Homo sapiens: one gene and its partners. The protein of the gene in region 3 interacts with the protein of the main gene of each other region in a biochemical or structural test. Each region holds a gene or a part of one and is shown on either strand. Other genes may lie near its edges.

What was found.
Region 1: the proteins of APBA2 (region 3) and CACNA1B interact in a biophysical measurement, tested with the Homo sapiens proteins (one study listed by IntAct).
Region 2: the proteins of APBA2 (region 3) and ARF3 form a complex in vitro, tested with the Homo sapiens proteins (one study listed by BioGRID).
Region 4: the proteins of APBA2 (region 3) and CLSTN1 interact in a biophysical measurement, tested with the Homo sapiens proteins (one study listed by IntAct).

Annotation. Positions count from the first base shown.
Region 1 is NC_000009.12:138,055,772-138,062,792, reverse strand, and holds part of CACNA1B (voltage-dependent N-type calcium channel subunit alpha-1B), read right to left. Parts: intron 5,062-7,021; coding exon 4,924-5,061; intron 4,745-4,923; coding exon 4,543-4,744; intron 4,225-4,542; coding exon 4,060-4,224; intron 3,715-4,059; coding exon 3,604-3,714; intron 3,140-3,603; coding exon 3,056-3,139; intron 1-3,055. UniProt on the Homo sapiens protein: Voltage-sensitive calcium channels (VSCC) mediate the entry of calcium ions into excitable cells and are also involved in a variety of calcium-dependent processes, including muscle contraction, hormone or neurotransmitter release, gene expression, cell motility, cell division and cell death.
Region 2 is NC_000012.12:48,954,487-48,961,889, forward strand, and holds the start of ARF3 (ADP-ribosylation factor 3), read right to left. Parts: upstream 3,002-7,403; 5' UTR 2,824-3,001; exon of another isoform or gene 1,612-2,823; intron 1,275-1,611; exon of another isoform or gene 1,209-1,274; intron 1-1,208.
Region 3 is NC_000015.10:28,881,064-28,888,984, forward strand, and holds the start of APBA2 (amyloid-beta A4 precursor protein-binding family A member 2), read left to right. Parts: upstream 1-4,910; 5' UTR 4,911-5,215; intron 5,216-7,921. UniProt on the Homo sapiens protein: Putative function in synaptic vesicle exocytosis by binding to STXBP1, an essential component of the synaptic vesicle exocytotic machinery. May modulate processing of the amyloid-beta precursor protein (APP) and hence formation of APP-beta.
Region 4 is NC_000001.11:9,813,954-9,820,974, reverse strand, and holds part of CLSTN1 (calsyntenin-1 isoform 1 precursor), read left to right. Parts: intron 1-7,021. UniProt on the Homo sapiens protein: Postsynaptic adhesion molecule that binds to presynaptic neurexins to mediate both excitatory and inhibitory synapse formation.

The DNA of each region.
Region 1 (7,021 bases), on a different chromosome or scaffold from region 3:
GGCCCTGCCACTTGGGCCACAAAACCCAGCAACCCCCAGGGTCCTTGATGTGTATGTGGTAGGTAAGGATACTGGGTAAAGTCCTGGGAAAGCCTCCACAGAGAAGTCAGTGCAGACACCCAGCATTTGGGAGCAGGCCATGCCATCTACAGAACGGAAGCATAATGAGAGGGGCCAACCTACTTCCTGGCCCTGGTGGCAGCTGTGTGTGTCACCAAGAGACATCGCTGTCTATGACACCAAAGCATCTCCCCATAGTGATGTGCTGTCAGACCCACCACAGGCCCAGTGAACAATGGAAGGGGTACCTCTACGACCGAACCCAAGCATGTCTAGAGGACACAGCACACAACATGTGGCCCAATCCCCCATGACACGCACCTCTGTTGACCAATGACGTCCTCACCTCACTCCCGCCATCACTTCATGGGGATTCACTACAACTTAGGGGGAAACGCAGACCTGATTTGTGGATGGGTTGCTTGGTATACTGGTGCAGGCCTCACTACAGCCTCACATAGGAACAGCCTGAAAGACAGAGGTGGAGCAGAGCCCTGGGCAGGGTATCTGGTCAGCTCTGTGTGGGGGGGAAAACAAGTTGCCTGTGCTGAGGATAACAGGGTCCTAGGCAGGCACAAACGGCTGGTCAGGATCCTGGAGGGAACAAGGTCTAGGTGAGAGGCAGACAGATGGGCCTTGGGAACAGGCATGGGGTACAGGCCTTTGTTTTGCAAACCAATGCTCACCATGGGGCACTAAAAACCAAGCACTGGGATAAGTCGACCAACAGATATTGGCTAGCCTCTGTCCTCACCAGCCCCAGTGTCCACACAGCAGACCTCTGGATAGGGTGACCATCGTGGCCAAGAGCCTCTCAGCAGCATGATCCAGTCATGACCACTGACGATTATCTACCGGGAATGAACAGACAGCAACACTGGGCTTCCATCTGGTGCCATGCCTTGGGGCTGTCAACCAGCCACCTAGTGGTAAGCTGATTATATCAGAACACCCTCTCCTGGAAAGGGCAGTGATTTGTCTCATCTGGGATCCACCCACATCCCAGGTGTGGGTTTGCCTTTCCTTGTGCAGTACCGTGCCGGCACTAACATCTCAGAGATTTACCAACACAGGATTCCATATAACATCAGCTTGGAGCACACGCAGGGGATGCATGTGAGCCAGGTGACCGCGGGGTCCACTGGATCATCTAACGCAACACCACTTAGGAGACGCTGCCCTGACCTTAAAGGCAGAGATAAAATGCCGGCTTGGTGATACACTTCATGGGGTTGGGGTGCCATATTTCAAGATGAACCAACGGCCAATCGATGGTACTGGGTGCCCAATCAGTAAAATGTATGGATGGAGGAAATGGTGAAAGAAGAAGGGGCCTGTCTCACCATCGCTCCAGAAACCCAGTATGAACTCTGCGCTCATCTTCCCCAATTTTAGGTCTGGCAAATCTAGAGGCCCTGGTTCAAACAGGTGGAGAAGGCTTCTACCACACAACACCAAAGCCATGGTGGCCACCTGGTCACTTGGGGCTGCTCGTGCCAGAAGGCCAGCAGGCATCACAAAGAGTTTCCATGCCAGCCAGATCATCTGACCCTCATTACTGTGAAGGGCAGAGCTGCCACTGCATAATTCTGGGAATCAGGGGCTTCACTGGGCCTTTCTCCATGCTCCTATGAACACGCTCCTGTGCGCAGTCTTCACTGCGACTGGATTACCACGGCAGCCAGGGTTGGAAAAAGAACGGCAACAAGTAGGGACTTGGGATGCGCAGGGCTGAGGGTCTGGGTCATCCCACCAGGCCAGCAACCAGTGCAGCAGAAGGCTGGCCACAGGACAGGGGCTCTAGAAAGGGTGGTGGGGACGGGATGATGAACATCAGCTCAGGGGCTCTAGAAAGGGTGGGGGGAACGGGATGATGAACACCAGCTCTGCTTGGACCAGCACAGCAGACGGAGCTCCGCTCTGTCTCCCAGAGACCATGACCAGCACCATCCTAAAGAATGAGCACAGTGAACCCAATGTGAAGTGTGGGCAGAACAGGAAGGAGCCTGGTGCTCCAGCAGGTTCTCCTCTGATGGTGTCAGACGTCCCTTCAGCCCTAACAGCTTGGGTGCAGCACTCGTGGCACACTCAGGGAGCTGGAAGCATCTGAGAATTGACACCCCAGGTGCAGCCCTCAGCCTAATGCCGTGCGGAGGGTGCAGAGGCAAACACGTTGCAGCTCCCTTTCCAGCAGGGATAGCTCTGAGGTGCGACCTACGCTGCTGCCAGAAGTCCCTTGGGAGATGACCCACACTGACCCACCAGGACTTGGCTTGGGACGCAGGATTTCTGGTCCTTCTCTTCCCACCCATTTCCCCATGCCCCTCTGCTGGTTTCTACTGGGAACATAACTTAAGAAATAAATTTCACATGAGTGCTCGTGTCTGCGTCTGCTTCTCGAGAATTCAACCTAAGACCAAACAAATGAGATTTTCTGCCATTGATTTCCAGTGTAATGTGTTGTACTCAAAGAATGTTGCTTTATGATTCAGATGCTTTGAAATTTGTTGAGACAAGTTTATATCCCAGCACTGGTCAATTTTAAGACATAATCCACATATGTTTGGTAAGAATGAGTATTTCCAGATATATATAGAGAGAGATAGAGAGACGGTGGGGGGCAATATTTTGAAATATAAATCCTTACTGGTTTCAGTTTATATATTTTTGATACCACCTTGTTAGATACATATTATACAGATACAAATTTAAGATTCACATCTTCTTGATTAGTTGTTACCATGGAGCTCCAGGTAACTCTCAGGCCAGCAGCCCAAAAGATCTTTGAGAACCACTTTCTTATTCAAGAAAGAACATCTGCTGAGGTAACACCCAATCCCTAAACTCCACCCCTGGAGCGAAGCCTCCACATGTCCAGGGGGTTCTGCGGAACCCAGGAAGAGGCTAACACAGGGCCTGGAGATGCACTGAGGGGAGCAGGCTCTAGAAGGAAACCACCTGGGGACCCTGAAGGAGGGACAGAAATGCTACTTACCGCAATCTCTGTTACTAAAATATCAGTAATACTTCCCAACACAGTGACAAAGTCAAAGACATTCCAGGCATCTCTGAAATAGTTCTAGAGAAAAAGAAGAGCAGTTAGTGCCAGCGGCTGATGAGGGCTCTGTTGGCAAAGAGGTATATATAGGTGGTGGCCCTGATTAAGAAAGCGGTGAGGGTGATAGACCCTGAGCACAGGGCAGACAGGCCACCCCAGGGGGCACAGCACAAGGCCAGAGGTAAGCAGATGTCAAAGCCAGGGACACAGATACCTCTGGGCCTGGGCAGAGGCAGGACTAAGAGCCATGTGTCCAAAGAGGAAGAACCCAGCCCTGCCTCCCTCCCAGGACCTAGGCTGGGGGCAGAGCTTATGTAGCCAAGAGTCTCAGAACAGCCCCTTCCCCAGGGCCCCTGTAGCATTACATATACTCTGGGTACTCGGAGAATTCCCAGCTCCAAATTGTGAGCCCCCAAAGGTCGCCCTACAGATGGGGAACCAGAATATAGGTTGTCAAAAGGCAAAGCAGGGACCAAAGCACGTACCAGCACCCCAAAGGCGATGATCTTCAGCACGCATTCCATGGAGAACATGGATGTGAACACGATGTTCAGGCATTTCAGCATCAGCTCGTACTCATAGGGTGCATCATAGAACTGCCCGGGGAATAGGCACTGTTGGCCATGGGTTTGGCAGCCCCAAGACACCCCATCTGGGACCACTATGACCAAGCAAAGCGGGCAGACAGAACTCGATGCCTGCCTAGGCCTGGGACACCCCTTCCTGCTCTCCCCGAGTCCTCCCAGAACCTCCCCACTGTCCCAGCCCACAGACAACAAAGGGAAACAGGATTCCACAGGCATCCCATGCTGGCCAGGATGCAAGGCCACTACTGCTTTGGCTCATGCAGGGAGGAAGAAGGCTGACTCTCCACTCAGCCTCAGGGTTAGATCCCAATCCCTAGCAGCGCCAGCTGCCCCTCTGCGCTGAGCCCCACACACCTTCATCATCAGCACCACAGTGTTGAGGGCTATCATGGCCATGATGAAGTATTCAAAGGGCGGGGAGACCACAAATGTCCACGTCTTATACTGGAACGACTGCCGGTTTTGGGGCATGTACCGTGTCAGGGGTTTGGCGCTGATGGCGAAGTCAATGCAAGCCCTCTGTAAGGGGAGAAAGGAGCACAGAGACTCAGAAGCAGAAAACCTACCCGACGGCATCTACTGCACCCAGCCCTGTCTCGCCAGGCCTCACAGGGAGCCCTGACAACAGAAGACAAATTGAAGCAGCCCAGACCTTCTCCAAGCAGGCCTCAACCAGCCAAATCCGGTCCCTCTGCAGGAGAAAGGAGGACCTGCCCCTGTGTTGGCAGACGGTGGCAGCCAAAGCTGACCCAGCTGTGAGTGATTTGTGTGCAGGAGGGAAGCCTGATGGCGCTGCCCACGCTGTCCACTGCAAGACTCCACAGAGCGTCCACCTACCTCGTTCTTCTCCAGGCTGCATTCAGACATCACCTTGTCCCCCTGCTCCTGGAAGGTGATGATGATCAAAGCCACAAAGATGTTGACGAAGAAGAAGGGAAAGACCACAAAGTAGACCACGTAGAAGATGGACAGCTCCATGCGGTACCCAGGGCTTGGACCCTGCTCCTCATAGGTGGCATCCACGGAGTGTTTCAGCACCCTGGGCAAAGAGGAGAGCAAGTGTCAGGGGAACCCCCAAAGGAGACAGCCCTAAGAACTCAAGACCTGCACCACAAGGGTGGGTCTGCTTCCATGCCTGAGCCCAGGGATAGAGGGAGGAAGGGAGGCCGAGCTCAGGGGCTGCCTGCCCCAGCTACGGAGAGCAGGATGAGCACTCACATGGGCCAGCCTTCTCCCGTGGACACTGTGAACAGCGTCAGCAGAGCCCAGAGCACATTGTCGTAGTGAAAGTCGTATTTCTTCCACTGCCTGGGCTGAGCTTCCACTTCCTCCTTCTCATAATCCAAATACTGACCCCTAGGAATGAGAACATGGGAGGTTAGAGGGCAAAGACAAAAGATCCAAATAAACCCACCTATCAAGAGTGTTGAAACCATTCCGTGGGGAAAGAATGGCCTCTCCAACAGACTGTGCTGGGAAAACTGGATGTCCACATGCAGAAGAATGAATGTGACCCTACTTTACTCCATAGACAAAAATTAACTCATGATGGATTCCAGACCTAAGTGTAAGGAGCTAAAACTATAAAACACTTAGAGGAAAACGGGGGCAAAACTTCGTGACCTCGAATCTGGGAATGGAGCCTTAGATGTGACACCAAAATCATGAGCAACAGAATAAAAAATACAGATAAATCAGGCCGCATCAAATCGGACACTTCTGTGCTCAGAGGACGCCGAGAACGTAAAGAGACAAATCCACAGAATGGGAAAAATACTTATTTCCTAATCCTCTGTCTGATAAGGGAGTTGTATTTAGAATATGTAAATAACTATTCTAATAAATAAAAAAGGCCGGGCGCGGTGGCTCACGCCTGTAATCCCAGCACTTTGGGAGGCCGAGGCGGGCGGATCACGAGGTCAGGAGATGGAGACCATCCTGGCTAACATGGTGAACCCCCGTCTCTACTAAAAATACAAAAATAATTAGCCGGGCGTGGTGGCGGGCGCCTATAGTCCCAGCTACTCGGGAGGCTGAGGCAGGAGAATGGCGTGAACCCGGGAGGTGGAGCCTGCAGTGAGCCGAGATCGCGCCACTGCACTCCAGCCTGGGCAACAGAGCGAGACTCCGTCTCAAAAAAAAAAAAAAAAAAAACCCAAATAAAAAATGGGTAAAGGATCTGAATAGACACTCCTCCAAAGAAGATATACAAATGGCTATTAAGCACATGAAACGCTGCTCAACACCACTCATCATCAGGGAAAGGCAAATAAAAACCACCACGAGACACCACTTCATGCCCATGATGATGGCTGTAGTTTAAAAAATACCAAAACTAAAAAGATGGAAAACCACAAGTGTTGGCAAGGATATGGGGAATTCAGAACCCTCATGCATTGCTGGTGGGAATATACAATGCTTTAGCCACTTTGGAAACAGTCTGGCATTTCCTCAAACAGTTAAACACAGAGTTACCCAATCACTCATTAATTCCACTTTTAGGTACACACCCATGAGAAGCAAAAACAGACCCACACAAAAATGTGGACATAAATGTATACAACAGCATCATTTATAACAGCCACAAGGTAGAAACAACCCAATGTTCATCAGCAAATGAAAGAATAAGGAAAATGTGGCACAGCACAGAACACATATTCAGCCGTAACAAGGAACAAGGCTCTGACACAAGCCACTGCGTGGACAAACCTGAAAACATCACACGAAAGAAGCTACTCACAAAAGACCACATATTGTATCATTCAATTTACAAAAAGTGTCCAGAACAGAGAGGTTTACAGAGATTAAAAACAGATTCATAGTTGGCTAGGGGTGGGACAGGGATGTAGGGGATGATAGTTAAACGGTGCGGGTTTTTCTTTTTTTTTGAGGTGCTGAAAATGTGTTCTAAAATTGACTGTGGCGATGCTTGCATGTACCTGTAAATAGACTAAAAGCCACTTAATTGCACACTGTAAGTGGATTGTTATGAACAAGCAGTATAATGTGTTAGTTACATCTCAATAAAGCTGTTTTTTTGTTTCTGTTTTTGTTTTTTTTTTGAGACAGAGTCTTACACTGTCGCCCGGGCTGGAGTGCAGTGGCACAATCTTGGCTCACTGCAACCTCCGCCTTCCAGGTTCAAGCGATTCGCCTGCCTCAGCCTCCTGAGCAGCTGGGATTACAGGTGCTGGCCACCATACCCAGCTAATTTTTTGTAGTTTTAGTAGAGACAGGGTTTCACTATTTTGACCAGGCTGGTCTCCAACTCCTGACCTCATGATCCACCCACCTCAGCCTCCCAAAGTGCTGGGAT
Region 2 (7,403 bases), on a different chromosome or scaffold from region 3:
GGTGCTTTACATTTATCTCATTTAATTCTACTGACAACCAAAAAAATAATAATTCTCTTGAAAACCATATGTCATTACCTTCTTTACAGATGAAGAAAATAAAGAGAGAAGACAAGCAATTTTACAAGAAACATGCAACTGGTAATTAGCAGAAGCAGGATTTGAATCTAATTTTGTCTGATTCCAAGATCCACTCTTAATTACTATACCATTCTGCCTCTAAATTTACCTCAACAAAAATGGTGAGGAGAGTTCAGGCATGGTGGTTCATGCCTGTAATCTCAGCACTTTGGGAGGCCAAGGTGGGAGGATATATTGGAGCCAGGAGTTTGAGACCAGCCCTAGCAACACAGTGAGATCTCTACAAAAAGTAAAAAAAAAAATTCGCTGGGCATGGTGGCACACGCATGTGGTCCCAGCTACTTGAGAAGCTGAAGTACAGGATGGCTTGAGGCCAGCTCGAGGCTGCAGTGAGTTATGATCACACCACTGCCCTCCAGCCTGGGTGGATAAAAATAAAGGTATATAGGGAAGCAGATTCTACAATTTCCTTCAGTTACATACTCAACTTTAACCAACCTGGTTTTAAAGAAGTTCCTCCTTCTAACCAATAAATCCCACCCTCTATCCTGAGTCCACTTCCTCTTATTATGACTCTAGTGTAAAAGAGTAGGGTGAACACACACTACAATATGACTCTTTGTGCACTTAGTATTTCACTCACTTCCACTCTTTCCAGTCTGCTCTCCTTTATACTTGCATTCAGTATAATAATAGCAGCTACCATTCACTGGTACCAATTCTGTACCTGACACCACACATATACATATATTGGTCCCTCCTCCAAACTCTCCAGGATCCCAATTCATATATAACACTTTGAAAGACTTAGGTCTGATGGAGAGACCCCTTTGCCCACAATGGGGAAGCAGGAAATCTGGGACTGCAGATAATGACTCTGTGTTCTAGTAATATTTTTCTTTTTGGGTCTTAAGTTTCCATTATCTATGCCTATTCTGTGCCTCTTAGGAAGGCAGAGACACAAAAACTTCTTAATTACAAAGGCTAAGGGTCTTTGTACCCTTGCTAAGCTATTTCCAGGCACTTCTGCTGACAGCCAAGCCATCTCTTGCCCTTTCCTTAAACTACAGTTAGAAAGCTTGTTGAGTTCTATCTATTTACATTCTAAATTCATCATGGGTACCTACTGTTTGCATGGGCATTGTGGAAGAGGAGACGAAATCCAGTTCCTGCAGTCGAAAAGCGTCTAGTCTCTTTGGAAAAGCAAGATAGACAACTATAAAAATTCTAACTATGCAAGGTAATAATTCTATGCTGGGAAACAGGACGCATGTGAATATGTGATACATGGGAGCCTTTCCTGGCTGAATCCAAGGTCAATCATTCATTCGGTGAAAAGCTGAACCTTAATGGATTAGTTTCTTTCTTAGAATGAACTTTTACAGACATGTTTTTCAAACTCAAGTCCAATGGGCTATGATAATCCACTGTCCCATAACACTGTCCCATGTCCCAAGTCACGGCAAGTGGAAACACCTACCCCAACAACAAGCCCAAGACAAAATAGCAGCAAAGACTGTTACTACCTACCTGATTGAGGACAGGGAAGGAGGTATGCAGCGACTAGATTCTGTCCTGTTGCACTGACCCAAGCAATCAGACTCTTGCAGCAGATCTCCTCCCAATAAAACTTTCATGCCATAGACCAGGGGTGACCCAATCCAACAACAGCAGAGACAGGTTTTAGGTTACATTTCTCCCTCACCGGGACGGCCTTACTATTTCTTCTCACTCCTGACCACATACCACAATCCTCCACCTCCACCACCACATTCCTCCTGGCCTGGAAAGATGGAGACCCGCCTTAATGCAATCAAGACGGGAATTCCCCCAAAATAACAGCTACCACTTTGCTAATCAAGTGGCCCGTTTTAACAGGGAACTCCACCTCCCCAACTCCCGCCCCTTCCCTCAAACGATTCGCGTAAGCAATGGCTCCATTTTCTGTTCCGGGAATCCTGGTACTTCCTAAAGAAAGAAAGCGGATTGGAAGACACAAACTGAGGGCCAGTGACAAGATGCTCCCTCCTCCTGTGAGACCGCCCCCGCTCCGCCTGGGGAGGAAGGCCCCACCTCTCTTCTCCCAGGAAGATCAGATCCCCCTCCTCCTTCTCCTGCCTCCTCTCCACCCTCTCCCCACTTGCTGCCCTCTTCCCAACCTGCGGTTCCCTAGACTCGAAAGCGCAACCTCTACCACAATAGCGCCCATGTGGTGCCCCAGCAGCCTGCCCTGTTGGCTAACCCCCAACCCCCCTACGCACCCCTGCCCTATGATGGGGGAGGGGGTGTAACCACAGCAAGGCTTCTCTCCCGTCTCCTATTGCTAAGGTGGGGGAGGGAGAGGGAGTAGAAGAAAGCAGCATTCCCTAGCCCTTTAACAGAAAAGATACAAACAGCCATCACCGCCCCCTCATCACCTCTCCTCGGACGGTTTTCCTCTCCCTCAACAGCACACCTCCTGCAGGCGACAACCTAACTGCAGCCCAGGTCGCCCCCTTGAGCGAGGCGGAGGACAAATCCGTGTGCGCCCCCCACCCCCACCCCAGCTCTGCGTCCTTCAAATGCGGGGGCAGGCGTGAAGCTGGCCCGACGCACCCTCTCTGAGCTCTCGGGTGGGAAGAATCCCACCGCCCCACGCCAAGCAGTGCCGGGCGGGGCCCGGGAGGCGCTCTATCTCCTCAGCCCTCACCCTGACCGAGCCTCTTCTCTACCGGGACCCGCCTTCCCTTCCCAGCCTCTCACCTGTTCCTGCTATCAGCTGCGCCGCTGCGGCCGCCGCCTCTGCCCCGCAGGTTCCGCTCCGCTCCCTCTGGCTCCCCAAGCCGACTTCAGCCCGGCTGCTGCCCTGGCCCACTCCCCGGCTCCCTCCTTCCTTCCCTCCACCTAGCACCGGAAGCCGCGACGGCGACTGGAGCTGTGCGGCGTACCCCCACCCCCAGCCCGGGATACTTCCCACCTCCCCGATCGCGCGATAGCTGCGCGGTAGCTAGCGGCAGTTCTCGCGAGACCCATCACCATGGCAGCGGCTGCAGCACCGGCGGCCGGGCGCTGGAGCTGGAGTCAGGGCGGGGGCAGGTGTGGGGGCTGTGGGCGGCGGAGGCGGGAGCCGTGAATGGGGATGAGACAGTGAGGACTGAGGTGACAATCCCAAGCTCCAGGGTTGTGCCTGGAATTTAAGGACTGAGGCGGCAAGTTGGCTGCGTAGGAGACGGGCTGGGCTGCGGGGCCCAGGGGCTCCTTGGGCAAAGCCAGCATCGGGATATGGGTGAACAGTCGTTGCTGTGGCATGCCTTACCCAGCCAGACTTCATCTTTATTTCTTAATCTGGGCTAGCTGCCATCCCCTGAAAGCCCTCACCGCACCATTGTTGTTGCTCACTATTCCTGAGACTAGATTACTGTGGGGTCTGAATCAAGAGATCCTTTCCCATAAGGAAGAGGAAGGAGAGTGATGAACTTAAGAGGCTAAAGGAAAACAGCTGGACTCTGAGCCAGTTAAGTTGGAACTTGAAAGACGGAGAGTGGAAACCTAATATTCAGAAGTGTGGTTTGAGGAAGTGTGCCTAGATGAGTAGGGATTTTAGTATCCCAAGGAAAGGTGAAGGACTTTGCACCCATATTTCTTGCTTCCTACCCACTCCTACTTCCCTCACACTCCGTTTTGCACCTGGTCTAGACATGCAGAACTGCCTTGAAACAAAAATAGCTGTGATAGAAGGGCACTAGTAATGCTAAGAACAGAAGGTTCCTTTTTTTTTTTTTTTTTTTGAGACAAGAGTCTCACTCTGTCGCCCAGGCTGGAGTGCAATGGCACCATCTTGGCTCACTGCAACCTCTGCCTCCCGGGTTCAAGCGATTCTCCTGCCTCAGCCTCCTGAGTAGCTGGGATTACAGGCGTGAGCCACCGCGCCCGGCCAATAGAAGGTTCTCTAAGTGCCCTCTCTCCTCATTTACAGCAGTATAAGGGAATGAACACATGGCTCTTCCCTAAGGCTTGAGCCCAAATTGTTGCTCTTATGAATTTATTGCCTTGGTTGATTTTGTTTGTTTGTTTCCTTGCTTCCAAGAAGAACTAAGCTGGGGCCAGGCCCTGTGTTCACACTTGTAATCCCAGCACTTTGGCAGGCTGAAGTGGGCAGATCACTTAAGGTCAGGAGTTTGAGACCATCCTGGCCAATATGGTGAAACCCTGTCTCTACCAGAAAATACAAAAATTAGCCGGGCATGGTGGCACATACCTGTAATCCCAGCTACTTGAACTGAGGCCAGAGAATCGCTTGAACCTGGGAGGCGGAAGTTGCAGTGAGCCAAGATCGTACCACTGCACTCCAGCCTGGGCGACAGAGTAAGACTTTGTCTCAAAGAAAAAAAAAAAAAAAGCTGGTAGGTGCCATATATGTCGATCTCCTTGTCCTCATCAATCCCTGGTGTATGCACTTACAGTCCCTTAACCCAGTCTGTTCTCTCTCTTATGTTAACCTGATAACATGACCCTAGAATGTCAAGCTAAGGGGACCTTAATTTAAGATGGTAAGGGATGAGATGGATGACAAGGAACCTGTTTATAACAAGGAATTATATCTGTCCTGGGCACTGCTATTAAGGGCTGCTGCCCTGCTAATCTCTGTGGGTTGTTTTTGTTTTTGTGTGTGTGTTTGTTTGTTTGTTTGTTTGTTTGTTTTTGAGATGGAGTCTCGCTCTGTCACCCAGGCTGGAGTGCAGTGGTGCAATCTCAGCTCACTGCAACCTCCGCCTCCCAGGTTCAAGCGATTCTCCTGCCTCAGCCTCGCGAGTAGCTGGGACTACAGGTGTGTGCCACCATGCCCGGCCAATTTTTTGTTTTTTTAGTAGAGACAGGGTTTCACTGTGTTAGCCAGGATGATCTCAATCTCCTGACCTCGTGATCTGCCTGCCTCAGCCTCCCAAAGTGCTGGGATTACAGGCGTGAGCCACATCTCTGTGTTTTTTTAAGATACGGGGTCTCACTATGTTGCCCAGGCTGGAGTGCAGTGGCTATTCACAGGAGCGATCATAGCACACTTCAGTCTTGAATTCCTGGGTTCAAGTGATCCTCCTGTCTCAGCCTCATGAATAGCTGGGATTATAGACATGTGCCACTGTGCTGGGTAGTTCTGTCGGGTGTGTTTTTGTTGGTGGTTTTGTTTGTTTGTTTCTTGCTTTTTTTTTTTTTTCTGTTTTTGAAACTGGATCTTGGCCGGGAGCGGTGGCTCAAGCCTGTAATCCTAGCACTTTGGGAGGCCGAGGCAGGCGGATCACGAGTCACGAGGTCAGGAGATCGAGAACATCCTGGCTAACACGGTGAAACCCCGTCTCTACTAAAAATACAAAAAATTAGGCAGGCGTGGTGGCAGGCGCCTATAGTCCCAACTACTCCTGAGGCTGAGTCAGGAGAATGGCGTGAACCCGGGAGTTGGAGCTTGCAGTGAGCCGAGATCGCGCCACTGCACTCCAGCCGGGGCGATAGAGCAAGACTCCGTCTCAAAAAAAAAAAAAAGAAGAAAGAAAAAAAAAGAAACTGGGTCTTGCTGTGTTGCTGAGGCTGGAGTGTAGTGGCGCAATCGGCTCACTGCAGCCTCAACCTCCTGGGCTCAAGTGATCCTTACCACCTCAGCCTCCCAAGTAGCTGGGACTACAGGTGCACGCCACCATGCCTGGCTAATTTTTTTTTTTTTTTTTGAGACAGTTTCGCTCTTGTTGCCCAGGCTGGAGTGCAATGGCACAATCTCCGCTCACTGCAACCTCTGCCTCCTGTGTTCGGGTGACTCTCCTGTCTTAGCCTCCCAAGTAGCTGGGATTATAGGCATGTGCCACCACGCCCGGCTAATTTTTATATTTTTAGTAGAGACAGGGTTTCACTGTGTTGGTCAGGCTGGTCTTGAACTCCTGACCTCAGGTGATCCACCTGCCTCAGCCTCCCAAAGTGCTGGGATTACAGGCGTGAGCCACCATGCCCAGTCACCCAGCTAATTTTTATGCTATTTGTAGAGACAGGGTTTTGCCATGTTGCCCAGGCCAAACTCTTGAGCTCAAGCAGTCCTCCCATCTAGGCGTCCCAAAGTGTTGGGATTACAGGCATGAGCCACCGTGCCTAGCCCAGCTCTGTGTTTTTAAGGACAAAAGACACCTCCAGTATTTTGTTGTTGTTGTTCATGTCAAATGGATAGTGTGCCAATGTAACAAGGTTTGAGGGTGGCACATCTCACATGTGTGTAAGCACCCAGTCATTATGCTTATGAACTACAAAAGGATCTTCCTCCAGTATTATTACTCCTAGAGTGGGTTTTTTGATATTTCCATGTGATTACTCTTTCATTTATTTCTCTAGAAATTTCTAGTAACACTCCACCAGGTTATCCCACCATGCTGTCCACCAAAACTATGATTTATAAAACCTCCCTAGTGCCCTTACCACGTGCACATGCCTGTGGAACTCAGACAAGGAGGTGGAACCTGTTGATATTCCTGCCCAGTGCTTCAGATCTTCTCAAGGTTTTATCCCCAGTGCAATAGAAAGATGGAAATGGTGACAGTCTAATGTAGTAAGCAGCAGGTACCATGGTATGTCAGTCAGGACTGATTAATGGGACTAGAGAATCTCCCAGCGCTTCTGTCCTTCACCTGTCTGGAGTCTGAAGAAGAAAACGTCTGTTGCAGCATCAGAGTGCGCTGCCCATGGAGCAAACAGGAGCAGAGATAGGAGGAGTGCTGCCCAGCTGGCAATTAGCTGGCCACTGCCCCTCCCTAACTTCCCAGCCACTTGGTAAAGGCCAGCAGGAGTAGAACTCATCTGGAGCTGAAGAGGGACAAGAGGCCCGTCTTACAGTTCATCAGCCTTTCTCCCTCCCTCTGGCTGCCATTGGAGCCTAGTAAAAGCTGAAATTGTAGCCACCAGCTCTGTGGGTTGCATACTCCAACCCTGTCGCTGACCCCAGTGCATGTGCTAGGAGCAGGGATAGGGAGTGGCGAAGGGGTGTGTTGGCCTTGCTGACAAAATCCATTTGGAATTTGTCAAGGTTGTGGTTTGGGGCTTAAGTTTGCCACACAGTGTGTCTGATGAAGGAAGAGGGAACGCTAGAAAGGAAAGAGGGACCCAAAGTACAGAGGAAGGAAACAGGAAAAAGCTGAAATAATCATGCTGTGACTCTGTTAGAGATTCTCCTTCCTCGTCCTGAGTGTGAGAAGTTCTGATTATAAATATTCTTTATCATTATTCTCTTATATCCTATGCCCATTCTAAGTGCATCCCCTCTTCCTTCCACATACACTAGGTTCAGTAAGTGCCTGAAGTAAGGATGGGATTTC
Region 3 (7,921 bases):
ACATTTCCATGCTGTCTCTGTGTCTTCCAAAATAAAGCAGTGGGTCTTGGAAAAACCTATTAGAGTGTGATCTGGTTAGTGATTTTTCCACTGACTTAAATCCTGAAGGCAAGAAAATCAGACTCCCACAGGGGTGTTTAGCATTTCCTTCTTACACACCCTGGACCTTGGGGATTTTCTAGGCCAACTTCCTCACCGAAACCCAGGAGGAAACTGTACCGTGGAGGCCCCAGCTGATTTACTTGAGTCCCCCCGCCTGGCTGGTGCCTTAGCTGGGACCAGAATGTAGGCCTCTTGACTCTTGGTTCAGGCCACTTTAGACTCCACAAGGATAAAATGAGCAGTCAGCAGGAGGAGCCTAAGAGCTTGATATTCCCAGGCCCAACAAGGCCTGTGCCAAGCAGTAACTTTATGAGAAGGAAGTTATTCTGCCATCCCCACAGAGAGAGGACATGTCTTTATTAATTAAGCACATTTTTACAGTCAGCCAAAGAGTGAAGGAAAAATTAGTATTCTGTCATTTGGAAGTTTTGTAAAGGAACATCTTGTTCAGCTTATAAAACAATGCATTAATCTTCTGTCCTATATAGGAAAGTCATATGTTATTTTTAAAAAATAAGTTAGGGTGTGAGGAGGTGACAAGTTTCCAACTCCACTTGGTAACACCTTGTAGGAAATCTGGCCTGGTCCAGGAGCCCCTCTAGGCTGAATGGTATCGGCATTAAGCATGCAATTCATGTATGCTGTCACTAAGTGGTGGTAGGGATCACAGCCATGTGGTCCAAACATATAGTCACAGACCTTCCTTGTTCTTCTTTTTCCCCCTAAAACAATAGACAAAAGATTTCAGAGATCTTTTACCCTCCAAAGGGTTAAAAACCAGGGTTAAGAATGATAATTACATTTTTTTTTCAGAGATAGATAATATCATATACTTCAAAAATTAAAAATTGGCCAGGTGCGGTGGCTCATGCCTGTAATCCCAGAACTTTGGGAGGCCGAGGCAGGCAGATCACGAGGTCAGGAGATCGAGACCATCCTGGCTAACACAGTGAAACCCCGTCTCTACTAAAAAATACAAAAAATTAGCCGGGCATGGTGGCGGGCGTCTGTAGTCCCAGCTACTCTGGAGGCTGAGGCAGGAGAATGGCGTGAACCCAGGAGGCGGAGCTTGCAGTGAGCCAAGACAGAGCTACTGCACTCCAGCCTGGGTGACAGAGCGAGACTCTGTCTCAAAAAAAAAAAAAAAAAAGAAAAAGTAAAGGAAAAGGAAAATCACTGAAAAGTTTTCCTGTCACCCCCGCCCCAGACACTACTTTCTTTCCCAAGGGTGACAACATTTTTCAGTTTACTGTGATCCTTCCAGAAAGGCTTTATTATTGTATATGAGCATCTATAGGCTCACCCTTTTTTCCTTTTTGCTTTTTTTACTCACATGGTGGCATACTACACACATCTTCTGCCCTTTGTTCTTTCACTTAACAATTATCTTGGAGAACTTCCCATGTTAATTTATCATGCGTTTCTTCCTTCTTTTATGGCTGCATTCTATTTCAGTGTTGGGAAGTGCCCTCATGCATTGAACAGTGCCCTTTTCATGGGTATCAAGATTGTCTGCAGTCACTTACTACAGAAACATAGCACCATGAATGATTCTACTCATGCCTGTTTTGCACGTGTGATATACAAGTCAAAAAATTCCTAGAAGTGAATTCTTAGGTCAAAGAGCTTGTGCATTTGTAATTTTGATAGACATCATCTGATTTTCCTACACAGAAGTTGTACTGATTTACACTCCCATGGGCAGTGTGGGTATCTGCCAGTTTCCTCTTGCTTTCTGGAATATATTGTATTACTGAACTCCTGGGTCTCTGATCAGTGAACACAATGACATCTCAGCATAGTTTTAATTTGCATTTCTTTTTCTTTTTTTGAGATGGAGTCTCACTCTGTTGCCCAGGCTCAAGTGCAGTGGTGCGATCTCAGCTCACTGCAACCTTTGCCTCCCAGGTTCAAGCGATTCTCCTGCCTCAGCCTCCCAAGTAGCTGGGATTACCGGTGCTCACCACCATGCCCAACTAATTTTTGTATTTCTAGTAGAGACGGGGTTTCACCGTGTTGGCCAGGCTTGTCTCAAACTCCTGACCTCAAGTGATCCACCTGCCTCGGCCTCCCAAAGTGTTGGGATTACAGGTGTGAGCCACCATGCCTGGCTTAATTTGCATTTCTTATTATGAATAAGGGAGGACAGCTTTTCAGATGTTTAAAAGTCATTTGTATTTCCTTCCCTGTGAATTGTCTGCTTCTTACCCTTTACCTGTTTCTTTGTCTTTTCTGTTAAGAGACAGTCTCATACTGCTGCCCAGGCTTAGTGCATTGGGATGATCATAGTTCACTGCAGCCTGGAACTCCTGGGCTTAAGTGATCCTCCTGTCTCAGCCTCCTGAGTAGCTGGGATTACAGGTGTGAGCCAAGGTGGGGGCCTGGTGATGATCCGTGATGCCTTCTTTTGATTTTTTTTTTCTTATCAATTTCTAGATGCTATCTATGTGTTAGGGAAATTAGCTGCTTGTGATATGAATTGCAAATAATTTTTTCCCCTTTGTTGTAGACTTTGCTTATGGTAGTGATTGCCATGCCAGAGTTTCTTTGAAGTCAAACTTAGCTGTTTTTTTGTTACCACTTTTTGATTTTGTTGCATACTTAGAAAGGCCTTTCCCATTCCAAGATACTTTTTTTTTTTAAATTTAAAATTTTAAGTTCCCAGATACAAGTACAGAACGTGTAGGTTTGTTACATGGGTATATGTGTGCCATGGTGGTCTGCTGCACCTATCAACCTGTCATCTAGGTTTTAAGCCTCACATGCACTAACTGTTTGTCCTAATGATTCTTCAAAAATTCTCTGAATACTGGCAGTTGGCTCAAGCTCACCAGATTTAGGAGTCCTGAGTGAGGCTGGGGGCAGGCCTGTACCTTTATTTTTAAATTTATTTAATTTATTTCATTTTTTAAAATGATAGGGTCTTGTTCTGTCACCAAGGCTGGAGTGCAGTGGCACGATCACAACTCACTGCAGTCTTGAACTCCTGGGCTCAAGCGAGCCTCCTGCTTCAGCTTCCCAAAGTATTGGGATTATAGGTGGGAGCCACTGTTCTTGGCCCTAGGCCTATACCTTTCATCTTGTGGACTGAGGACTTCAGCCACTATCACTCCCGGGTGCTGCGATGGGGTTTAATTTCCAGTGACTGGCCCAGAGCCTGCTCATGGGAAGATCTCAAGGGAGGCTGTTGAAGGAACAGCATGCAACTTACCGGCCCACACACGTTCACACAGATGGGGGTGGGGGTTTGAGGAGGTGGGGGGTGTTGTGTGGATCAGCTTCAGGCACAGGTGTCTGGTTTCCTATGGGATGTGACCACATAACAGTAAGGCAAGAAGATGACTGCATTTATCTTCTCAGAATCACTTCTTCTTAATTGTTGCTTCCCACTATTGGCATTGGTGAAAGGCTGGGCCACAGGAGGCTGGATGAACTTTGTGTTAGCCAGGTAAGCAGAATGTCTATGCAGGTGGAAAGTAGACAGTGAAGGTGTGCTCATCTGAGTACGGAGGGGCATAGGTCAGGAACCTCGTTGGCCTGCCCTGGCCTTTGCCCCTTTGTTTGGCCCTGTGGCTACAAAGCTCCCCTACCAGGAGCAGCCCCCACTGGCGGCTCTGGCCCTGGAAACCTGTGAATGTTTGGTGGGGGCAGGGTGTGGAGAGGCCAAGTCCACAGTGTATCTAACCCTAGTCCATCTCAGGATTCGGCTTCCCCCAGCCCCTTCTCCTTAGGGTCTCAGCTCGGGCCCTCAGGGCAGCAGGAAGATGCGCTGTCCTCACTCCCAAGTCCCCCTGCCCTTCTGTGCCTTCTGACCTGGGCAGAACTTCCCATGCCACAGCTTCGCCTAATCCAGCCACAGGAGAAAAGAAAACGAGGGCAAATCACCACGATTTGGGGGGAGGGAGGCCCCTGAGCCCCCGCTCTGCCCAGACAAGGCATCCTGTGCATCTCCCATGGCTCATCACATCTGCCTGGGACTCAGTGAAAGGGCCAGAGGGCCAAAGGTGACACCGGAGTCTCCAGCACGACCTTCGAGGGCCTCCAGGGCATTTCTCGCGCTGTAGGGGCGGAAGACTGGCTCCCCTGGGGATGCATGTGAGTGTCTAGGAGTGTACGCTCCCCAGGGCCCCGCGGAGGTCAGGGTTCTCTCCATTTAGGACAGCAAGGAGAGAAAGCCCTGGAGTGAGGCCCTGGGGCTGGGGGCTAAAGCAGCACAGAGTATCAGAAACGGGGTGCTGGGATGGTTACCGGGGACCGCCAGGGAAGACTTGGGAGTCCAGCATGCGCCTAGGGGAGCTGCGGTGGGGAGGCAGCAGGGGGCCTCCTCTGCCGGATGGGGCCTTCGGAGGCCGCGATCCCCGAGAGTTCTTCGCTCGAGGGTTCTTCGCTCTAGGGTCCCCCATTACAGCTGCGCGGGGCCGAGCAAGCAGGGCGCGGCGGCCGGGGCAAGGTGCGGAGCCTCGCGTTCACCGGCTCTACCTGCGGAGCCTCGCGTTCACTGGCTCTACCTGCGGGACCAGACCCCTGCAGCTCCCCAGCCAGCACGGCCGGGGCACGCCCGGGAATCTGTGTGCTCCCCAGGGCCCGGGGCGTTCGGGGCGCCGCGCCTTCCAGCGCCTGGGTCCCAGCCCCGATCCCGGAGACCGGCCCGGGGGGACCCGGGGTCCCGAGTGCACCCTCCTGCCCTGCAGACTGTCCCAGCGCCGGGGCCAGGGGGCGCAGGACCTCGCGCACGCCCGGCACGGACGCATCTTTGTCTTCCCTCTCTTCACGGCGCGCGATCTAGCCGGGAATCGTTTTCCGGCCCCAGTGTGCCCGGCGCGGGTGAGGCGGAAGCGGCCGGGGCGGGGGCGCAGGCCCGGCAGCCGCAGGCCGGTGCGGGATGCGCCCCGCAGCCGCGCCGCGTGCGCCCGGCAGAGGCGGCCCTGCGTGCCGTACGCTGCGTCCGGGGCGCGCCCGCCGCTATTCGGGAAGCTATTCAGCTTCCCGGGCTCATTAGCAGTCGCGGTGTGCGGCTCGGCGCGGGCTCACAAAGAGCTCGGCCTCGCGGACTGAGCCGGCGGCAGCGGGGCGGGGACGGCGGCGTACCCGGGCAGCCCAGCGCCCTGGCCAGGTAAGCTGGGGAACCTGGGCTGCCTGACTTGCCGGCGGCGGCAGCCTGGGGCCGCCCGGGGCGCCGCGAGGACCCGGACGCGTGGGGGGCGGCGCGGAGGTTGCGGCCCGAGCGCTCCAGAGCGCTGCCCTCCCGACTCAGCGTGGCTGCGGGGCGGCCGCCGCTGGGATATGGGGGTACAGCCCGGCGGCCCCACTCCTCTCTGACCGGCCGCTTCCCCCTCCCACGACGGGTGGGCGGGCGGGGCGGGGACCAGGCGGCGGCTCTCGCATCCCGCGCGGGGGGCACCGCGGCAAGGGGCCACCCGGCGCGGACAAGAGGCGCTGTGTGGCGGGGCTGTCCGCTCGACTCCTGCCGGGCTGGCCGGGCTGCTTGGCACCGGCATCAAGTCCCCGTGCCGGGCGGCAACTACTGAGTTTGGGGTCGCCTCTGGGTTCGCTGCCCCCAGAGAACCCAAGCCCAGATCTTCGCCCCCTTCCCTTTCCCTTTATAATAAGGCCCAGAGGGGAAAACTTATCAATTCAAAACCCCACACCCCGTTGCTCCTGGGCTGCAGGTGCCCGGTTGGGGGCACGGCGCGGACCTGCCCCTCGGCCTGGCCCCTTCCCCATGGCAGGCACTGCCTGGCAAGGCTGCTGGCGGGAGATCTGGCTGCAGATGGTGAAGGAGAACATCGAGGCCCCCGGTCCCCAAGCAGGGCGCCATGGGCCGGGCAGCGGGCCTCGGTGTGCCCAGGCGGGGAGGGGGCGAACTTCCTTTCTCCGACGCCTGCCGAGGACCGCCGTGGAGAGCAGAGCCTTAGAGGGGCCTGCTAGTCTTAACTTCGTATTTACTGGCAGAAGGAAGGCTTAATTTTTCAGATCTATTCAGATACGACCTGGCAGGCACCAGACATAAATCTGTGGTTGAGTGCAGTCAGCTCCTAAATGGGCATGTGGAGGGTGAGGCACCCCGAACTCGGCATCTTGCGTCTGGCACTGTTTTTGGGCTAAACTGCCTCTGGCCTCTTCAACCTCCTGTGCCTCTTTCTGTTTTTGTTTTTGTTTTATTTTTCTGTTTTCCTTCCTCTTTGAGAAAGGACAGTGATTTTAGAAATAATGACCCGAGAGCTTTGCAGGTTGAAGTGGGACGAGTTTTCCTAAGGTGCAGGTTGGCAGGTGCCAGGAGCCTGCAGGTGGCTTTTTCTCAGGCCTCTGGGTCAGGGTCCCTCCAATGAGGTGAGGCAGGGGTTTCTCCTGTGTGTCGCCACTACGCAGGGGACAGGATCTGGGTTTCCCAGTCCAGGGCGTCCAGGATGCCCTGCCCTCTGTGCTGATTCCTGGGTGACCGTGGGGGCTGCTTCCCCCTGCAGCCTGGGCTGGAGAGGGTCTCCTGAGCTTAGGATCTGCCAGGCAGGAGGGCCAGGGTGACACGGACCTGGAACGCTGGGGCTCCAGGCAATGTCCAGGGCGTGAGTGGGTAAAGCTGGAGCTTGTGGCTGTGTGCCGGCAGCCTTCCCTCGGTGGGCTCTAGCAGCACTGTCAGGGGGGCCCTTGGAGTGGGCTCCATGGCTGGGCTGGGACTGGGTGATGGCATTAGCGATGGGGCACCGAGTCTTCCCTCTTATTTATTAGGAAGTGTGGTCTGTGCCCCTCCCTACTGCCGGTCTCCTGGGCTCCTGGGATGGGAGGAGCTGCAGGCTGAGTCCCACGGGGTGTGAGTGTGTGTGAGCAGGAGAGTTGGGTGGGCGCTGGAAGGAGGTGAAACTGGTGACCGTCAGCTCCTCATTCTCTTCCACCTTGCATGTTTTCTCTGACACCCTAGACTCAAGTTGTGGCCTGCTAGTTAACTTGTTTACAAAACCTTTTTAAGTAGTTCTAACCTCTTTTTTTCAACAAAATGTTAGTTTTACAGGCATAATTGGTGGGGATGGATTGTGAAATGGAGGTGCATAAATACCTAGTTTGCCAACTGAGCTAAGAAATACTGGATAAAAATAAGAGATAATTGTAAAAGACACTGATCACACCCCTGGAAGCTGAGAGGGGTGATAAGACACCTTGATTTTTCCTAGACAAAACTGAGGAAGTCAGAGGAAAAACAGTTGATGGTGAGGTTGGCATCAGGCTGGGCTTTGTTTGGATTGGGCGGCGGTGGCTGTGGTGAGGGCTGTTGGAGTGGGGAGAGTGGGGGTTGAGCCTGGCTTCAGAGACCCCCTCGAGGCCTCAGCTCCTCTCCGGCGCTCCTGGCTGTCCTCTGCCACGCATACCTGCCCCGGTGACTCAACAGGTGTGGGCCTCAGGTGACACCATGGTCCGAAGTCGTGGAGAAACCTTTACTGTCCAGGGGAGGAGAGGACTGGCGGTCGGTGGGGATCGAGACCCAGCACACATCACTGGGTGGCTCGAATGTCTTCGGCAGAGATCACATGCCCTGCCTTGCAGCCTGGTCCTTAGAGAATGGGGAGAGTGGAGAGAGCTCTGGGCCTGGGTGGCGGGCGGTCCTGGCTGTATCACTCACAGGCTGCGTGCCCTCCCCATGCAGTCTCAGTTCCTCACCCTTGCCAGGTGGCTGTGAGGACTGGGAACGTGGAGGCACAGGTAGGATGTAAGGTAGCCACTGACCACCAGGCAGGCCTCCCCGATGTAGGTCAAGTTTGAGATGGTTGCTCACCAGGAGGCAGCCTGTGTGCCCGGTGGGGGCTGGGGGTGAAGTTTGAGAGGGTTG
Region 4 (7,021 bases), on a different chromosome or scaffold from region 3:
GCCACTTAATACATAAAATTCACTGTTACTTTTCCATTTGCACATAGGCTTAGTGAGACCTCCCCTCACCATCCTATTTGAAATAATTTCTCTTCCTGAACCCCTAAATCCTGTTTCCCTGCAACACTTTTTCTTTTTGCATAGCACTTAGCCCATTCTAACATGCCTTGTTGTTTACTTATTGAATTGTTTATCGTCTGTTTCCCCTCAGTAGAACATATGCCCCAAGATGGAAGGGTATCTGCTTTGCATATGTTTCCCGTCACCAGCACACCAGAGGCATGCCAGTATTGTGTGATTGAATGAATGAATGGGTGGATGGATAACAGCATTTCAGTTTAGACAGCGTAGTAGCTTTGCATCCTAATTTTCACTTTACAGATAAATGCTATATACTGAAAAAAATTACATAGTGTAAAGCAAACTTAAGTTTTTTTTTTGTTTGTTTTTGTTTTTGTGACAGAGTCTCATTCTGTCACCCAGGCTGGAGTGCAATGGCGCGATCTTGTCTCACTGCAACCTCCGCCTCCCGGGTTCAAGAGATTCTTCTGCCTCAGCCTCACCAGTAGCTGGGACTACAGGCATATGCCATCACACTGGGCTCATTTTTGTATTTTTAGTAGAGACAGGGTTTCACCATGTTGGCCAGGCTGGTCTGAACTTCTGACCTCAAGTGATCCGCCTGCCTCTGCCTCCCACAGTGCTGAGATTACAGGTGTGAGCCACTGCACCCGGCCCAAACTTAAATTCTGCAGTGTCGATATGGGAATTCATTAGTGGGTAAATTTTCAAGGATCATGGGGCCAGCCTCGGTGGCTCACCCCTGTAATTCCAGCACTTTGGGAGAACTAGGCAGGCAGATTGTTTGAGCCCAGGAGTTTGAGACTAGCCTGGGCAACATGGTGAAACCTTGTCACTACAAAAATACCAAAAAAAAAAAAAAAGTTCAAGGATCAATTCTGTTGGTTGCAGTATTGGGGATATTAGATCATGAAACTCTGTCTCAGCCTTTGAAGGCTGTAGCTCTGTGGCTACCCCTGTTAGTCCCTTTAAAAATACTATAATTTTCAGCTTTTTTGGGAAGATGGTTTCTTAATTTGTTACCTCGTTTTTTCAGAAGTAACGATGTGGAAAAAAGTCGTTCGAATATAGACCTCAGTATTACCCATAGTCTAACATTTTTAATACTGAAAGTAAATAACATTTATTTCTCAAAGGAGACCTATAACTGCTGAAGAAATAATAAAATACGAACAATTTTGAATATATTCCAATTTTAGAGCATTCACTCGGTTAACTGGAACCTTCAGTTAGCTGGAATTCGTCCTTTGGCTGGATATTTCTTTTGGGAGAAAAAGCATGAAACCAAGCAGTTTTATAGGAATTATTTTTCAAAAGGAAGGTTTAGGAGGTCATAACATACATTATCTGTGCCAGTATTTGATATTCAAGCCAAAAACGCAAATAATATTTCAGTTTTAGTTATGAAGAATATGACCAAAAAATGAAATTTTTGTGGGATATAAAATATTACATTGAAAATAGAAAATGCTGTAATTTCGTAACACTAGCTGCAGGACTTAGTGAAGCTTATTAAACCAAGTCTAAATGTTTAAAATGAGGAAGCTGAGATAGGTTAAAATTTTAGAACAAAGGAAAAAAAGTACTGAGTTATTTTTATTATTGCTTTCTGAGACAGGAAAGTATGTTTTTTAATTTTTTTGGGTAGTTTTCATTTATAAGAGTTGAAACAAAATAGAGATCTGATTATCCTAAAAAACCGCCAAGAGTCTATTTCTTATGTATTCTGGTTGAGGGCTTAGATCATTAAAACTTGTTTTTTTAGTGGGTCTTAATTTGGTGTGAAGACTTGCTTGAAGGGGCCGGGTGCGGTGGCTCACACCTGTAATCCCAGCATTTTGGGAGGCCAATGTGGGTGGATCACGAGGTCAGGAGATCAAGACCATCCTGGCTAACACGGTGAAACCCCATCTGTCTCTACTAAAAAAAAATACAAAAAATTAGCCAGGCGTGGTGGCAGGTGCCTGTAGTCCCAGCTATTCGGGAGGCTGAGGCAGGAGAATGGCGTGAACCCGGGAGGTGGAGCTTGCAGTGAGCCGAGATCGCGCCACTGCACTCCAGCCTGGGCGACAGAGTGAGACTCCGTCTCAAAAAAAAAAAAAAAAAAAAAAAAAAAGAGTTGCTTGAAGAAATATGTCTTTATAAGTGAAATTTAAAATGTTGATTTGCTACAAAATACGGATTTTAGTAGTGTTTCAGGACTACAGATTCAAGATTGGTGGAAATTATTTATGCAATGTCATGTTCGTGCATTAAAAAACAACCAAGGCCTGGCGCGGTGGCTCATGCCTGTAATCCCAGCACTTTGGGAGGCCAAGGTGGGTGGATCATGAGGTCAAGAGATGGAGACCATCCTGGCCAACATGATGAAACCCTGTCTCTACTAAAAATACAAAAATTAGCTGGGCATGGTGGCATGCATCTGTAGTCCCAGCTACTTGGGAGGCTGAGGCAAGAGAATTGCTTGAACTCGGGAGGCGGAGGTTGTAGTGAGCCGAGATCACACCGCCGCACTCCAGCCTGGCGACAGAGTGAGACTCAGTCTCAGGAAAAAACAAAAACAAAAACAAAAAAAAACCCAAACGGCCAGGCATGGTAGCTGACACCTGTAATCCCAGTGCTTTGGGAGGCCAAGATGGGTGAACTGCTTGAGTCCAGGAGTTCGAGACCAGCCTGTGCAACATGGTGAAACCCCATCTCTACTAAAAATACAAAACAATTAGCTGGGCATGGTGGCATATGCCTGTAGTCCCAGCTACTCAGGAGGCTGAGGCTGGAGAACTGATTGAGCCTGGCAGGTTGAGGCTGCAGTGAGCCAAGGTCACACCACTTGCATTCCAGCCTGAGCGACAGAGCAAGACTCTGTCTCTAAAAAAAAAAAAAAAAAAAAGCCAAACTAACAGACCCTCAAAAGTGACATTTTGAGGCTATGCAAAGGCCATATATAGGAACCCTTAAATGGCGACAGCCTCCCCACTGTGTCAGCCTGACATACAATACCCGTCTTTTCCCTAAGAGCTGCCACCACCCGGGAACTAGAATGCTGCTTTCAGTTGTCCCTGATTTGATAGGTTCTTTCTCTCCTATGTTTTAGGTATATTTTTGCTCATTTTTTGATTTAGCTTTAGGATATTATTATTAGATTAAAAATTTTCACAAGATCTGTTACTAAAGTTTTTATTTTTAAAGATTCTTGGCAGAGATTCACGTACTTCAAAGTAGCAGAGTTTAAAGCAGCTTAAATGCCTATAAAACATCTGAAAGTTGGCTGGGTGCAGTGGCTCACAACTGTAATCCCAGCACTTTGGGAGGCCGAGGCAGGCGGATCACCTTAGGTCAGGAGTTCGGGACCAGCCTGACCAACATGGAGAAACCCCATCTCTACTAAAAAATATAAAATTAGCCGGGTGTGGTGGCGCATGCCTGTAATCCCAGCTACTCGGGAGGCTGAGGCAGGAGAATTGCTTGAACCCAGGAGGTGGAGGTTGCGGTGAGCCGAGATGGTGCCATTGCACTCCAGCCTGGGCAACAAGAGCAAAACTCCGTCTCAAAAAAAGAAAAAAATCTGAAAGCTTCCTTCCCATTCCGGAACCCCAATAAGAAGTATGTGATAGCATATCAAAAGAAGAGTCATGTTTTTTCTTTTTTACTTCTTTGGTCAGACATGAATCATTATCTTAAAAAGAATTAATAGAAGTGGCGTCTCACTGTGTTGCTCAGGCTGGTCTCGAACTCCTGGACTCAATCAGTCCTCCCACCTCATCCTCTCAAAGAGCCGAGATTATAGGTATGAGCTACCGCACCTGGCCGAAGAATCATCTTTCAGCCATCTGTTTCGTTCTGTCTGATTCTCCCATGACAAGAACTTCTGTTGAGTCTGCTACTTTTCAAGCCTACCTTGATCTGTACTTTCTCTGAGTCATTGTGTAGGACAAAGGAGGACCACCGGCTGGGTGCGGTGGCTCACGTCTGTAATCCTAGCACTTCGGGAGGCCGAGGTGGGCGGATCATCTGAGGTTGGGAGAAAGAGACCAGCCTGACCAATGTGGAGAAACCCCATCTCTACTAAAAAATACAAAATTAGCTGGGCGTGGTGGCACATGCCTGTAATCCCAGCTACTTGGGAGGCTGAGGCAGGAGAATTGCTTGAACCCAGGGGGCGGAGGTTGCAGTGAGTCGAGATCACACCATTGCACTCCAGCCTGGGCAACAAGAGCAAAACTCCATCTCAAAAAAAAAGACCACTTTTGTCATGCCACTGCACTCCAGCCTGGGTGACAGAGCAAGACTTTGTCTCAAACAAACAAACAAAAAAACCCACCTTTTTCTGCATCCACTCCTTTTTTTTTTTTTTTTTAAAGCAGCTTTATTGAGGTATAGTTCACATACCATAAAATTCAACCTTTTAAGGCATACAATTCAGTGATTTTAGTATATTTACAAAGTTGCACAACCATCACCACTATCTAATTTCAGAACACTTTCATCACTCCCAAAAGAAATCCCATATCTGTTAGCAATCATTCTCCATCTCCCTCCTCCTCTCCTCCTCCCTTGGCAACCCCTAGTCTATTTTCTGTCTATGGATTTGCTTATTTTGGACATTTCACATCAATGGAATCATACGTGGCCTTTTGTGACTAGCTTCTTTTGCTTAATATGATGTCTTCAAGGTTCATCCATGTTGTAGCATGTATCAGGACTTCGTTTCTTTTCATAGGTAAATAATATATCCTTGTAGGGATATAACACATTCTGTTTATCCATTTATTCACTGATGGACATTTGGGTTATTTCCACTTTGTAGCTAATTTTGGAAAATATTACTATGAACATTTTTGTACAGGAATTTGTGTGGACATATGTTTTCATTTCTCTTGGGTGTATACCCAAGTGGAATTGTTGGGTCTTAGGGTAACTCTTAGATTTAACTTTTTAAATTAAAAAAATTTTTTTTTGAGGTAGAGTCTCACTCTGTCACCCAGGCTGGAGTGCAGTGATGTTATCTTGGCTCACTGCAGCCTCCGCCTCCTGGGTTCAAGAGATTCTCCTGCCTCAGCCTCCCGAGTAGCTGGGATTACAGGTGCCTGCCACCATGCCCGGCTGATTTTTGTATTTTTAGTAGAGACGGGGTTTCACCATGTTGGCCAGGCTGGTCTCCAACTCCTGACCTCAAGTGATCCAGCTGCTTTGGCCTTCCAAAGTGCCGGGATTACAGGCGTGAGCACTATGCCCGGCCTGTGTTTTTAACATTTTGAGGAACTACCAGTTGGTTGTACAAAGTGGCTGCACCATCCTGTATCCACTTGACCTCCATAGTCACTCACAGGAGCATTTTTCGAATCAAATACACATTTCACAGTTTTCTAGTTTGTTAGAATTTTAAGTTGAATTTTTCCTAGTCTAGGTGCAAACCGGCATTTCATCCAACCAATTCCTTCCTTTGCCATTGTCTCTCATATAATTTCTACTCTGGACTTTAGACTTTGAGTTGAAAGGAACTTTGAAAGTTCTTTCCTCTATACTTTAAATAGCCTTCCCTGTAAAACAGACATTTCCTCATATGTTCTTGTGTGTTGATCATTCAGCCTCTGTTTGAACTCTGCTGCTGTGGGGCTCTTGGTAGCTCACAGAGCAACCCTTTTCTTAAAAACATTGAGCCTTTGGTCAGCTTTCCTGAGGACTAAATTTTATCACGCCTTTGTATTTTTGCAGGCATCCAAGCCTACAGTCTGTTGTTTTTACCACCTCACACATTAAGAGAGACTGAGAGCACTGAGGCCTAGGCCTTGATTTCTGTAGATTTCTTAGGAAATCTGAGCCTAGCACAGGGCTACACATGCAGTGTTTGGGGGACAGCCACCCAGACACATGCAGAGTCAATATCCTGGTTCCAGGAGCAGGGCTTAACTTAATGAAAGGGACTGGAAAAAACACGAGAATTTTCAAACTACAACTAGTTTAGAAAAGTGACATTTTTCTTTTTTTTTTTTTGAGACAGGATCTTGCTCTGTTGCCCAGGCTGGAGTGCAGTGGCACAATCACAGCTCACTGCAGCCTCAACCTCCCTTGGCTTAAACTATCCTTCCACCTCAGCCTCCTGAGTAGGTGTGCACACCGCCATGCCTGGCTAATTTTAAAATTTTTGTAGAGACGGGATCTTCCTATGTTGCCCAGGCTGGTCTCGAACTTTTGGGCTCAAGCATTCTGCCCTTTTTGGCCCTCCAAAGTGCTGCGATTATAGGCGTGAGCCACCATGTCCAGCTGACATTTCTTCATTCATTACATTTTTGTTATGCTAGTTGGCTAAAAATGTGCTTTGTTAAAAAGTAAATTATTTTTTCTAGTCCTTTGATTTTATTTAACTATTCCTCAATTACCCAATCTTCAAACATATAAAATGCTTAGAAATATGTCTTTAGATTCAAAGTGAATTTTAAAACTCAGTAAAAATGAATATCTTCTTTGTTTACATACTTAAAGTATAGCAAAGAAATTTTTATTCAAGCTGGAGTGCAGTGGCACGATCTCAGCTCACTGCAATCTCCGTCCTCCCAAGGTTCAAGCGATCTGCCCATTTCAGCCCCCTGAATAGCTGGAACTACAGACACACACCACCATGCCTGGCTTTTTTTTTTTTTTTTTTGGTAGAGATGGGGTTTTACCATATTGCCCAGATTGGTCTCAAACTCCTGGACTCAAGCAATCTCCCTGCCTCAGCCTCCCAAAGTGCTAGGATTACAAGCATGAGCCACCATGCTCAGCCTAACATTTTTCTTTCTTTTTTTTTTTGAGACAGTGTCTCGCTCTGTCACCCAGGCTGGTGTGCAATGGCGTGATCTTGGCTCACTGCAAGCTCCTTCTCCCAGGTTCATGCCATTCTCCTGCCTCAGCCTCCTGAGTAGCTGGAACTACAGGTGCCTGCCACTGCGCCCGGCTA